2 linked regions of the Homo sapiens genome follow. The protein of the gene in region 1 purifies or fractionates together with the protein of each later gene. This does not show direct contact. Each region holds a gene or a part of one and is shown on either strand. Other genes may lie near its edges.

Evidence for each region.
Region 2: the proteins of PRDM10 (region 1) and GRHL1 purify together in Homo sapiens (co-immunoprecipitation; one large-scale study listed by IntAct). This does not show direct contact.

Annotation. Positions count from the first base shown.
Region 1 is NC_000011.10:129,912,336-129,915,835, forward strand, and holds part of PRDM10 (PR domain zinc finger protein 10), read right to left. Parts: coding exon 3,325-3,500; intron 2,684-3,324; coding exon 2,369-2,683; intron 1-2,368.
Region 2 is NC_000002.12:9,958,193-9,961,692, reverse strand, and holds part of GRHL1 (grainyhead-like protein 1 homolog), read right to left. Parts: intron 2,908-3,500; coding exon 2,837-2,907; intron 2,820-2,836; exon of another isoform or gene 2,729-2,819; intron 648-2,728; coding exon 257-647; intron 1-256. UniProt on the Homo sapiens protein: Transcription factor involved in epithelial development. Binds directly to the consensus DNA sequence 5'-AACCGGTT-3'.

The DNA.
Region 1 (3,500 bases):
GGCTCATGCCTATAAACCCAGCAGTTTGGGAGGCCAAAGCGGGTGTATCGCTTGAGCCCAGGAGTTCGAGACCAGCCTGGGCAACATGGCAAAACCCTGTCTCTACAAAAAATACAAAAATTAGTCAGGTGAATGGCCGGGCGCCGTGGCTCACGCCTGTAATCCCAGCACTTTGGGAGGCCAAGGCGGGTGGATCACGAGGTCAGGAGATCGAGACCGTCCTGGCTAACATGGTGAAACCCCGTCTCTACTGAAAATACAAAAAAATTAGCTGGGTGTGGCGGCAGGCACCTGTAGTCCCAGCTACTAGGGAGGCTGAGGCAGGAGAATGGCGTGAACCTGGGAGGCGGAGCTTGCAGTGAGCTGGGATTGCACCACTGCACTCCAGCCTGGGCGACAGAGCGAGACTCCATCTCGAAAAAAAAAAAAAAATTAGTCAGGCAGCAGGGTGCAGTGGCTCACCCCTGTAATCCCAGCACTTTGGGAGGCTGAGGCGGGGGGATCACTTGAGGTCAGGAGTTCAAGACAAGCCTGACCAATGTGGTGAAACCCTGTCTCCACTAAAAATACAAAAATTAGCTGGGTGTGGTGGCGAGCACCTGTAATCCCAGCTACTCAGGAGGCTAAGGCAGAAGAATCACTTGAACCTGGGAGGCAGAGGTTGCAGTGAGCTGAATTCGTGCCACTGGACTCTAGCCCGGGCAACAGAGCGAGACTCCATCTCAAAAAAAAAAAATAGCCAGGCATGGTGGCATGCCTGTAATCCGAGCTACTGATGAGGCTGAGGTGGGAGGAATATCTGAGCCTGGGAGGCGGAGGTTGCAGTGAGCCATGATTGTGCCACTGCACTCCAGCCTGGGTGACAATAGTGAGACCCTGTCTCCAAAAAAAAAAAAAAAAAAAAACCAAAAACAATATCCCAATATATGCCAACAGAAATAGAAGAATGGAAGGGATTTCAGCTCCAATGCTGCACTCGCAGATAGCCCACACCTAGAACACGCCATACAACAGGATAAAAAAAGAGCGTTTAGAGAAATATGCTTCTCACACATAAGCCACTATTAGATTCTGGAAGAGAAGGAGAGAGAGGGAAGATAGTTCCTGACAATAAGCTGAAAAAGAAGTTGTCAGGAATCAAAAATTTCAGTTACATTTAATGATCTACCCTTTATCAATTAAAAGAGATCAAAGAAATTCGTTTTTAGTTTGTCACCATTAACCCACTATGACAGTGGTTCTTAACCTTTTATATATCATAAACATCTTTGAAAAAGTAGCTAAAGTACAGGCCCTTTTTCTAGAACAATGTACCTATACATCATAATTTACAGGCAACTTCAGGGACTCATATAGCTTCCTCCAAAGCCTGAAGTTAAAAACCCTCCATAAGAAAAACAAGACAAAGAATAGTCAACGACAGTGGCAACTTCCAATTTCCTGTCCCCATGTTAGTTTTAAATTTTCAGAGACCAAATGATTTCAAAGCAACAAGTTTGTTCATTTGTGCCTTGGGGACACTTCTCCTCAGTGTAATTAAATGAAACAATAGTTCTGGGAGAATCACTTTCATTTAGTTCCTTAGTCAATAAGAATGAGTTATTCATTATCTGGTAGAAGGAACACAGTTATACCTCTATACTACAAAGGCACTGACTGATATGCAGAGATTGACTCAATTTTTTTTTTTGAGTCCTGTTCTGTCGCCCAGGCTGGAGTGCAATGGTGTGATCTCAGCTCACTGCAACCTCCGCCTCCCAGGTTCAAGCAATTCTCCTGCCCCAGCTTCCTGAGTAGCTGGGATTACAGGCATCCGCCACCATGCCCAGCTAATTTTTGTATTTTTAGTAGAGACGAGATTTTGCCATGTTGGCCAGGCTGGTCTCGAACTCCTGACCTCAAGTGATCTGCCCGCCTCAGCCTCCCAAAAGTGCTGGGATTACAGGCATGAGCCACTGCGCCCAGCCATCAATATTATGCTTTATGACCTCTCTTTGATATAAGACATTTGATACGCAGGTCGTGATTTATCAAACTGGCTCATTACCAAGCAGCCAACCAGGATGGTTAAAGATAAGGATCAGAAGAGGGTCAGAAACAGGTGCTGTGGCTACTGTCCTGCCACAGCACAGGAGGCTTGTATATGCTGGAACCTAAAATTTCCTGACTACTATAGACAGAAATCTCTTACATTGCTAAGGCCAGAGGCCTCATCAGCCTGAAAGGGGAAGGGGCAGTTGTAAAATGCCCAAGGCTCAGAACTTCCACGCAGAAGGACATTACATAGATCCCAGCCCCAGCTCTGAGAATGAGGTGCTAGTGGCAACACGGCATTCATAAGGCAAAGGGAAACCAAGGCACGCAGTACCGAGGCCACTTGAACCACTTGCAGCTGTATGTGCTGAGGCTGCTGGAGGCCAGACGCCGACTGCGACACAGGGATGTACTGAATTCTCTGGTAATCCCCTTGTGGCGTTCGGTAGTCTGTCGTTAAGGTCTGGGACAGTTCTGTCATTGCTTGGGTGAGCAGGTCCGTCGTCACCACAGTCTCTCCAGTGGCGCTGTCTGTAGTCAAAACCGCTGGGGTGGCACTGATCACAGCTGTCGTCAGTGGTGTGTGTATGGTGTTGGAGAGCTGGGCGAACTCTGGATGCTTCTTTCGAATGTGCTGGACCATCTTGGTCTGAAAAAGCAAGGCAAAAAACAAGAATAATTATTAGAATTTGTGATTTTCCGTTTTTCTCATATGTAAATCCTCCAAAGATTCCTAAAGTCTTTTATGTCTTAAAAAAAGAAAAATCAGAGCAACACTGACTCTATGCCTGTACTTCCTGGGGTAACATAATGCTATGAAAGCAGGGAAGAGGGTGGGGAAGAAGTAAAACCTCACCTGACCTCACACCATCAGCAAGGTCTCAATACCCCCCCCAAATAGTACCTGCAGCAATCAATCACAATCCCCCCAGCCAAAATGACCTCCTTTGTAAAGCCACCACGTAACTTTCTATGTGGTGCTTCCAAAAGCCTGAACTCACCAACTGCAAGCACAGAACATTCAAACGTGAGGCCCTCCGCAGGCCAAGGGAAAAGGAAAACAGCCAGCTGCTCGGGCTGCTGTACGGCACTAATTCTGGGGAGGTCCACAGTATCCTCTTTCCATTCTCTGCTGTGCTCTCTGTTTACAGTGACTAGGACAACATCTCTTTCAGTCCCCCGTCAACTCAGAAGGAGCCATCCAGGCCATGTGGATGAGAAGCCACCTTTCCTTAAGAGATTCCTCGCATGGCGGTTTTGACCTTAGCTTTAGTCAGAAACTCCCCCTACCTTGCTGCTGTACTGCTTGGAGCAGTGGGGACAGCAGACGGGAGGGGTGGCGATGGTGCCCGTCAGCTGGGTGTGTGTGCTCAGCATGGGGTCTGGCTCTCCAGGACCAGCGGGTCGGAGCTTCCGAATGCTCGGTGGGAGCTCTGCTCCTGGGTGGTTCTTCAGAATGTGGGCTT
Region 2 (3,500 bases), on another chromosome or scaffold:
CAAATCCCTTAGCTGAAATCATAATTGTTAACTCAGCTGCTGGTAAGATTAGCCTTGCATCCTTGATAATAACTTCTGGTTGTATAGGTTTAGTTTACAAATTATACCCATGGGCCTTTTCTCTTAAAAAAAAAATCTTTTATTCCTAATCCATTCATTTCAGGCTGAGTTTCATGCTTACATAACAAGGAAAAGGTGGAACCCAATACTTATACAAACACGCAGGCGTCTTAGGAAGATGTTTTTGTTTCCTTACCTCCTGAACGCCTTCCTTGAAGGTCTCTGAGAAGGTCGAGTCTGGAGTTCGCCTTTGAGCATTTGGGGCTTGAGCACCAGAGCTGAACTGGTCAGTATTGAGATTCCGATCGAAAACCACCACCCGCTCAGTGGGCTCAGGATGATACACTGCTGGGGGGATTCCCACAGCGAAGCCATGTGGCTGGGTTTCTGTCTTGATGGAGTGGGTAGGCATCGTTGCTATGGAGACAGTGACTGTCGTATCTGGAGCTGTCAGATGGCCTCTCTTATCAATGCCCAGCTGGTTGCCATGGGGAAGGACAATGTTAAATGGCACATTTTTCAGTACTTGCACTCTGTTTTCTCCAGCAGAGATGAGGGGCTGCTCTGTCACAATTGGTATGCTGTTTCTTTAAGAAAAGAAAACTGCTTTCAAACGCGATGCTGATGTAGTTCTTTGACAATTTTTATTTTCCTAATGGCATTGGGCTGTTGGGTCCTGTGCAATAACACTTGACAGAATAAACAGAAAACATCAAAACTACCCATTACTAGATAAAGGGAAAAAGGCTTTCTGGTTATCGGTCAAATAAAATCCAAACCTATTAAGTAAAATTTCATTCGAAATACTAAGGGCTCAGAGCTCTCCTCTAACAAGCTTTACTTTCCATAATCCTAAAAACAATTACTGTGTTTTACTAGAAACCTGAAGCTATGCGATCTGATCAACTGGGGTTACAGCATAGACGCCAGGGTCAAATTGCCTGGGTTCAAGTTCTGTGTCACCTGAGCAAGTTACTTCATCTCTTAGTAACTGAATCCTCATCTGCAAAATGGGGACAATAATGGCATCCATTCTCATCAGGTTGAGATGAGATGATACACTAAAAGGTGTATAATAATGCCTGACACACAGTCTTCAAGAAGTATGAGCTATTATTACTTGGTCACCACTTTTCCTACCACCTATGCCATTTGGCTTTCTCCTTTTTTTTTTTTTAATTTTTTATTTTTTTGAGACAGAGTCTTGCCCTTATGGCCCAGGCTGGTGTGCAATGGCGTGATCTAGGCTCACTGCAACCTCCGCCTCCCGGGTTCAAGCGATTCTCCCACCTCAGCCTCCCGAGTAGCTGGGATTACAGGCGCACGCCACCACACTTGGCTAATTTTTGTATTTTTAGTAGAGACTGGGTTTTACCATGTTGGCCAGGCTGGTCTCGAACTCCTGACCTCAGGTGATCCACCTGCCTCAGCCTCCCAAAGCGCTGCGATTACAGGCATGAGCCACTGTGCCGGGCCTGGCTTTCTCTTTCACCCAAGAAAACCTATTGTTACATTGCATCAGTAGACACATCTGCTTTTTATAAAATTAAATTTTGGTTTGATAAATAATTTGAGCAATACAAGATGATTTCCAGTGGGTAAAATGAATGAATTTTCAAAGCCCCCAGAAATCATATAGGCTGAAGCTTCAAGAAACAGGCAAATTGAGAATTCTGTACATTTCAAGATCAATAAAACTGTTTGAACCCTGAACCATAAATTCACTCCCAGGAATTTATCCTAAAACGGAAAAAGTCTAGAAAGTTGTTCCTTAAGACTTCTTAATAGTGAAAACTAGATATAGCAGCAATTGTAAGGATATTTACAGTTTGCTTCAGAATGTTCCAGCAAAAATAAATAAAATAAAAACATGAATTAATCTCAAAGTTGAAGAAGAGGGAAGAACAAATCAAACAAGAGGAATTGTGTTGATAACTGTTGAGGCTGGTCATGGATACATGTGGGCTTATACTGTTTTTCTATTTTTATTATGTTTGAAAATGCCCATAATGAAAAGTAAAAGATAAAAGCCACAAGTCCTCTTCCAAAGGATAATTATGAAGATTAAAATACAGAGAAAATGTTTATGAAACAAACTAAGTAGAAGAAAGTACACTACCAAATCCTATCTGTGAACACAACTACGCTACATAAAATTTGCATACACATCAAAACAATGAATAAAGCAATCATCACGATAATGGGATACTGGGTGATGATCATTCTTCCTTTAAATATGTTTCATTCCTTGATTGATAATAAAACACAAGACAATTTAAAAGGTGTCTTTTTAAAGTTTTTCATGGCTAGCCAAACGTTAATTAAATTTTCTGAAAGTTTTAATCTAAAATATTTCACAAATAATTTCAACAGGAATTTGAATACAATTTAACTTGCTTTATTCAATTTTACTCAGGCAGTTGTTCAAGAGTCACTGGTGCTTAATTTTTTTAATAGACCACTGCCACACATCCTTCTAAAGAAAACCTCAAAAACAAATAAGCAAATACTGAAGTTATTACTAAAACTATCCCTTTGGAGGAGGAGAATGTTAGTGCTTTCATCCTAGAAAAGGCAACTACTACGCCCAAAGAAAAAAGGAAATTTCAGAGCAACAGAGGCAAATCAGTGATGAAATCTGAATTTAGATAGTAAGAGTCCAACTTACCTATCTCTTTCACTAGTGGTTGTTCATTTAAACAAACTCCCATTTTGCTGTTACAGAAACGTGGCATTTCCCCCTGCACTCTTTATGCTGTTAGGCACTGAATGTTACCTTTTGCTGTGATCTGGCTCAGGGTGCTCCACCTCTGGCTTTGCTGTTGATGACCTTCTCTCTCTTGGAACCTGATATTAGCACACATGAAAAGAATTTAGCTCTTATCCAGTGAAGTGCAGTTTACCCAAAGATACAGCCTTTTATTTTTCAGTAAATTCAATCATTCATTTATCTACTGGTTGCCTAGCAAACACCAGGCTATGGGGACACACAAATTATAATATCTGCCCTCAACGAGCTTAAAATCTAGTCACCCATCTGGTTGATATGTAAAAAGCAACTGTTATTGAGTTGCCAAATAAACTCAGGGCATGATAAATTTATTTTGTCATGGAGTTTGGGTCTCATCTCTTAAAAAAAAAATACCTCCGCTGGCCACAGCTGGTGGCTCATGTCTGTAATCCCAGCCACTTTGGGAGGCCAAGGTGGGAGGATTGTTTGAGCCCAGGAGTTCAAGACCAGCCTGGGCAACACAGTGAAACTCATTTCTACAAAAAAAATTTTAAAATTAGCCAGGCGTGGTAGCATGTGCCTGTAGTCTCAGCTACACAAGAGAGACTGCGGTGAGAAGATCGCTTCAGCCCGGAGGCAGAGGTTACAGTGAGCAGAGATTGCGCCACTGCACTCTGGCCTGGGCGATAGAGCAAGACCCTTCCTGACT